Linked DNA regions of Homo sapiens. The protein of the gene in region 1 purifies or fractionates together with the protein of each later gene. This does not show direct contact. Each region holds a gene or a part of one and is shown in the gene's direction. Other genes may lie near its edges. The genes, in order: GTPBP6 and LRRC46.

Region 1 (2,782 bases):
TTTCGACTCCTCCCGACAATAAATTATGGACCGGGTGTGGTGGCTCACGCCTGCAATCCCAGCACTTTGGGAGGTTGAGGCGGGTGGATCACTTCAGGTCAGGAGATCGAGACCACGGCGAAATCCCGTCTCTACTAAAAATATAAAAAATTAGCCAGGCATGGTGGCGGGTGCCTGTAGTCCCAGCTACTCAAGAGAGGCTGAGGCAGGAGAATGGCTGAACCCGGGAGGCGGAGCTTGCAGTGAGCTGAGATCGCGCCACTGCACTCCAGCCTGTGTGACAGAGCGAGACTCGTCTCAAAAAAAAAAAAAAAAAAAAAGTAAAACTTTCCTGGGATGAAATTATTTTTTTTGTTTTTACTTTTCTTCTTTAGAGACAGGGTCTCGCTCTGTCACCCAGACTGAACCGCAGTGGTATGATCTCGGCTCACTGCAGCCTCGACCTCCTGGGCTCAAGTGATCCTCCCACCTCAGCCTCCTGAGTAGCTGAGACCACAGACACGCACAACCAGGCCATGGCTAATTTTTGTACTTTCTGTAGAAACGGCCTCACTCTCTTGCCCAGGCTGGTCTCAAACTTCTGGGCTCAAGCCACCTCCCAAAGTGCCTCAGTTACAGGAAAAATATTATTTGTATTAAGTGCATCCAAACAAACAAAAAGTAGACGTGGATACCCCGGTAGTATAAGTTGGAGAATTACACACGGCTTTATTTTTTTTTCCCTGTGTTTTTCAAATTTTGTGTAAGGAGCCTGCCTGTAAGATTTTTTTTGAACGTGAGAAAAAAAGCATCCTTTAAAGAGGAAATAATTCCGCTGTTAAAAGACATTTCACAGGAGGATGAAGCCGCCCTAAAGCTTTGAATGAAGACCCCCTGGGTGGGTGGGTGGTGGTTGGGTGCTCATATATGGCACCCCCTTGCGTGTGGGTCTGGGGGTGCGGAGCTGCTGCCTGTGGCTTGGAAGGTTGGGTAAGTGCAGCCGGGTGGGCTCGCGTCCACTGTTGGTCTAGGAGCCCCCGTCCTGGGGTGTCCGAGGGGCCTGCACACAGGCGTACCTCCCATGCCCAGCCTGTCGTTGGGAGCTCGTGTGAGCCCCTCTCCTGGGCCTGTCTGCAAGCTTGGGGTCAGGGACCAGAGGCTCCGCAGCTCTGACCCCACGGCCCGGCCCACAGGATCTCATCTTGCACGTGAGGGACGTCAGCCACCCCGAGGCGGAGCTCCAGAAATGCAGCGTTCTGTCCACGCTGCGTGGCCTGCAGCTGCCCGCCCCGCTCCTGGACTCCATGGTGGAGGTTCACAACAAGGTGGACCTCGTGCCCGGGTGAGTCCGGCCCTGGGGTCCGCAAGCGTCTCCTTCCCCTGCACGCGCTGGAGCCGGGTGGGGAGATGCCCCGTCTCCTCGTGTGAACCGCAGCGGTGGCAGTCAGGACACAGGGAGTGGCCCCAGACTGTGCCCCGTGGGCAGTGGACTCCTGGGGACCCTGATTTCGTCCGGCCGCCCCGACGCTGAGCGGGGCCTGTGACATCCCCACCCTTGCAGGTACAGCCCCACGGAACCGAACGTCGTGCCCGTGTCTGCCCTGCGGGGCCACGGGCTCCAGGAGCTGAAAGCTGAGCTCGATGCGGCGGTTTTGAAGGCGACGGGGAGACAGATCCTCACTCTCCGTGTGAGGCTCGCAGGGGCGCAGCTCAGGTGAGCGGCCTGCAGGGGCAGGAGACGGGATGGTGCTTTGGATGCCTGTCTCTGGCTCTGAAACGGGCTCTTCGTGGGTGCACAAGGAGCTGTGAGATCCCCGAGAGCTTTAGGATGTACAGACGAGATGAATGGGTTTGCATCAAATGTACATTTGTGACTGTGCATACAAGAGGTGCCTAATCTGCGCTTGAGAGTCAAAATCTACATTTGTGACTGTGCATACAACAGGTGCCTAATCTGTGCTGACAGTCAAAATGTACATTTCTGACTGCATACAACGGGTGCCTAATCTGTGCTTGACAGTAAAAATACATTTCTGACTGCATACAACAGTTGCCTAATCTGTGCTTGACAGTCAAAATGTACATTTCTGACTGCATACAACAGGTGCCTAATCTGTGCTGACAGTCAAAATGTACATTTCTGACTGCATACAACAGGTGCCTAATCTGTGCTGACAGTCAAAATGTACATTTCTGACTGCATACAACAGGTGCCTAATCTGTGCTGACACTCAAAATATACATTTCTGACTGTGGATACAACAGGTGCCTAATTATGCTGACAGTGAAAATGTACATTTCTGACCATACAACAGGTGCCTAATCTGTGCTTGACAGCCAAAATGTACATTTCTGTGCATACAACAGGTGCCTAATCTGCACTGACAGTCAAAATGTACATTTCTGACTGCATACAACAGGTGCCTAATCTGTGCTGACAGTCAAAATGTACATTTCTGACTGCATACAACAGGTGCCTAATCTGTGCTTGACAGTAAAAATACATTTCTGACTGCATACAACAGTTGCCTAATCTGTGCTGACAAAATGTACATTTCTGACTGTGCATACAACAGGTGCCTAATGTGTGCTGACACTCAATGTACATTTCTGACTGTGGATACAACAGGTGCCTAATTATGCTGACAGTGAAAATGTACATTTCTGACCATACAACAGGTGCCTAATCTGTGCTTGACAGCCAAAATGTACATTTCTGTGCATACAACAGGTGCCTAATCTGCACTGACAGTCAAAATGTACATTTCTGACTGTGCATACAACAGGTGCCTAATCTGTGCTG
Region 2 (3,550 bases), on another chromosome or scaffold:
ACGAATGACATAGGGTCCTGAATTGAAAAACTAATTCCCTCAAAATAGATCCTGAACATGACCTGTGCTCCTTCCACTGTTCTTTAGGCACTTCTCTTGATCTAGAAGTTCTTTTTGGCATCTACTCTAAATCTTTCACGTTAAATAGCTCCAGCCCATTTCCTGTTTTGAAGAAGAGGAAACTATGAAGATTCCTGTACATCATTCAGATCCTACTTGAAGGCTGTTTGGTGGTGGTGGTGGTGGTTGGTTGATCTTCAGCCTTCCCCTGGTTGAGTATTCCCAGCTCGCTTCAACTTTCCCCATAGAAACTTTAACCGTCAAGTTCCTGTATGCTCATTGTTCTCTCTGTGTATGCAAGCCACCACCAAGGCCCTTTCCGTTTTCCTGGTGGCTTCTTAGTTTCCTTTTCTGATTCCCAGGTCACTCTTTGGTTGTGGAATCAGAAGAGTATACGTAGTCAGGTTTAGATACCCCAGGTTTACACCCTTAACCATCCACATGGGGAAAGAAAATCATCTTTCTTAAGGTAGTGGCAACCTGTTCAAGGAGTGGGGTGATCATTCCCAAAGTGCCAGATCTCCAGCTGCAGAGTAGACATGGTCTTGGGGCTTTGTCCCCGTAAAGGGCCCCTGACGCATCTGATCTCAGCTTGGTTTCCCCACTTCGGTTTCTTCTTGCAGAATAAGATCCAGCAAATTGAGAACCTGGCTTGCATCCCCTCCTTGCGGTATGTGGTGCCAGGGCTCAGGCAGGGGAAGAGGGGTTGGGGGAACCTAGCCATATCCCAAAGAACTGGTTCAGATTTCTCCAAGCCTGGGTCCTTGTCAGTCAAGGACCAGCAAGCCTAGATCTACTCCCTCACCCCAGAAGGCCATGTGTCCCCACTGGTCATCAGCTGCCTAGCCCAGGGGCCCCGGTGTCAGGTGCCCTCCTCTTTTCTTCCAGCTGTTCCATGATTCAGCTCTGCCTCTGTACCCCTTCCTTCCCCTACAGCTTCCTGTCTCTGGCAGGAAACCAAATCAGGCAGGTGGAAAACCTCCTCGACCTCCCATGCCTCCAGTTTCTGGACCTTTCTGAGAACCTGATAGAAACATTGAAGCTGGGTAGGAACCCACTCGCCCTGGCTCACCAAACACATCCCCTGTGGGGCCTGCCCTCCCCTCTGCACCCATCTGCCCATGCTTCTATTAGCCATGCCCCTGCAGGTCCACATTTCATCCTCAGGGAGTTCAAGGGGTTGTGCCTAGAGGTACTGGCTTTGGACTAGAAAGTGGGTATGAGAACCCCATTCCCATCGCTTCATGGTCTTTTGGCTAAGATCAAGTGAGAACCCCATTTCCTCTCTCTTTGCTGTGTGCAGATGAGTTCCCCCAGAGCCTTCTCATCCTCAACCTGTCTGGAAACAGCTGCACCAACCAGGATGGCTACCGGTAAGGAGTGGAGGGTGGGAAGAAAGGTCATGGCTGAGCTCTACCTGCTAACTCAGCCCAGACCCCTCTCAGCCTGCAAACCTGGGGTCCTGTCCATGACACCTTCTCCCCCACCTCCTACCTAGCTCATGAGCCACCACCCCTCCGGGTGTGAGTGCTGTGGTGCGTGTCTTTGCATCCTCCACGCCAGGGTGCCCTCCTGGGTAACCTCTGCTCCTTCTGCTCTGCAGCGAGCTGGTGACAGAAGCCCTGCCACTTCTCCTGGACCTGGACGGGCAGCCTGTGGTGGAGCGCTGGATTTCGGATGAGGAGGATGAAGCCTCAAGCGATGAGGAGTTCCCAGAGCTGAGTGGCCCATTCTGCTCAGAACGAGGTGACCCTGCTTTCCAAGGTTTTCAGCCTCCCCAGAGCCCACCTCTGCCCTGTGGGACATGAGGGAAGCTAAGGTGGCAGTGGCGTCCGGGGAGGGGAGCCCCAAGTTCAGATCAACATCTGGGCCAGAGCCAGGTGTCAGTCCTGGGCCCCAGCCTCAGGCTCCTTCCCACAAGGGACAAGGGGCCAGCCAGAGACTTCCCTGAGCCCAGGGACCCTCCTGCTGAGCCCAGGGCTCCACCCACCCTGTACCCTCCACCCCCGGCCCCTCCCAGGCTTCCTCAAGGAGCTGGAGCAGGAGCTGAGCAGGCACAGGGAGCACCGGCAACAGACGGCCCTGACAGAGCACCTGCTGAGGATGGAGATGCAGCCCACCCTCACCGACCTGCCCCTGCTACCTGGGGTGCCCATGGCTGGGGACAGCAGCCCTTCTGCCACTCCTGCGCAAGGGGAGGAGACAGTCCCTGAGGCCGTCTCCTCACCCCAGGCCTCCTCTCCCACCAAGAAACCATGCAGTCTGATTCCCAGGGGCCACCAAAGCTCTTTCTGGGGAAGGAAGGGGGCACGAGCAGCCACAGCCCCCAAGGCCTCTGTGGCTGAGGCCCCCAGCACAACCAAAACTACGGCCAAGAGAAGCAAGAAATGATTCTCTGTCAACCTTTCTCTACTAGTGGAGAGGAGTGGGGCCTGCCCCTCTTCTCAGACCTCTGACCTGTGACAGAAGCCCATCCCCAGTAAAGTGTCTCTAGGCCCTGAGTATGCTTTTCATGTCACTTGGGGTATCTCAGGGGAAGAAACCAGTGAAAGCTCCAGGAAACAAAATACAGAGCTCAGTGAGCCACCTGATTCTAAAGAGCGAGTCTGGAATCTTTCGGGAGCTACCCACAGGGCAGGCATGCCTCAGGCCCCCGCTGGCTTCCTGGCTCCCACTTGGGCAGGAAGCGGGCACCACCTCATGGAAGAGGCATGCCATCTCACTGCCACCCCTAGCGAGTGCCCTTCCCCGGTCCAAGCCAAGGACCAAGGAGCTGTGGTCCTAGTCATCCCCAACAGCAGCCAGCTCCTGTCCCCTCCCTGTCCTCCTGCCCAGTCCCCATCACTCACCCACTCATAGGAATGAGTACACAACCACAGGCCCCGCAGCCAGCCCACAGCTGCCTTTGGGCCTCACTTGGCTCTCCCACCCCCACTGGTCCTGGGATAAAGTTCACTGAAGAGAAAATAAAGCACATTTATTAAGGCAAAGGCCAAGCTGGCCGCTCAGAACATGGCCAAGGAGCGTGAAGGGATTGCTCCACTTTACCACCACTCAGGGCACCCAGGCCCCAGGGGTCCTGGGTCCACCCCAGGCCAGCAGAAGCTATGAAGCTTACGCATAAGCCTGGCTCTCCCTCTTCACGAAGGCCTGGAAGAGGCTGCCCAGCTCCCAGAGGGGTGGGGCCCACTCGCCGGCCAGCAGCCCCTGTGTGGCCTCGAGGCCTTCCTGCTCCAGATCCTGCTGTTTCTGCTGGAGCTGCTGCCCCCGATCCTGCCCCAAGGGAAAGCTGAGATGAGTCTGTCCGGGACAGGCTTCCCGCCAGGTGAAGGGGGGACTGTGTACCACCTCACACAAGCAGGAGAAAGGAGATACCCCCCGACATTCCCCAAAGGCAGTTGCTGGCTTTGAAGGGAGGAACTCCTCTCCCCAGCTCTGAAATCTCTTCCACTCCCTAGTTCCTTCATATTTCCAGAGTCCCACTGGGAGT

Evidence for each region.
Region 2: the proteins of GTPBP6 (region 1) and LRRC46 purify together in Homo sapiens (co-immunoprecipitation; one large-scale study listed by IntAct). This does not show direct contact.

The regions. Positions count from the first base shown.
Region 1 is NC_000023.11:306,271-309,052, reverse strand, and holds part of GTPBP6 (putative GTP-binding protein 6), read left to right. Parts: intron 1-1,172; coding exon 1,173-1,321; intron 1,322-1,540; coding exon 1,541-1,693; intron 1,694-2,782.
Region 2 is NC_000017.11:47,834,670-47,838,219, forward strand, and holds the end of LRRC46 (leucine-rich repeat-containing protein 46), read left to right. Parts: intron 1-683; coding exon 684-730; intron 731-996; coding exon 997-1,106; intron 1,107-1,363; coding exon 1,364-1,433; intron 1,434-1,663; coding exon 1,664-1,806; intron 1,807-2,080; coding exon 2,081-2,451; 3' UTR 2,452-3,050; downstream 3,051-3,550. Other genes in the region: SCRN2 (secernin-2), read right to left, coding at 3,175-3,333. UniProt on the Homo sapiens protein: Required for normal spermatogenesis and male fertility. Plays an important role in sperm flagellum biogenesis.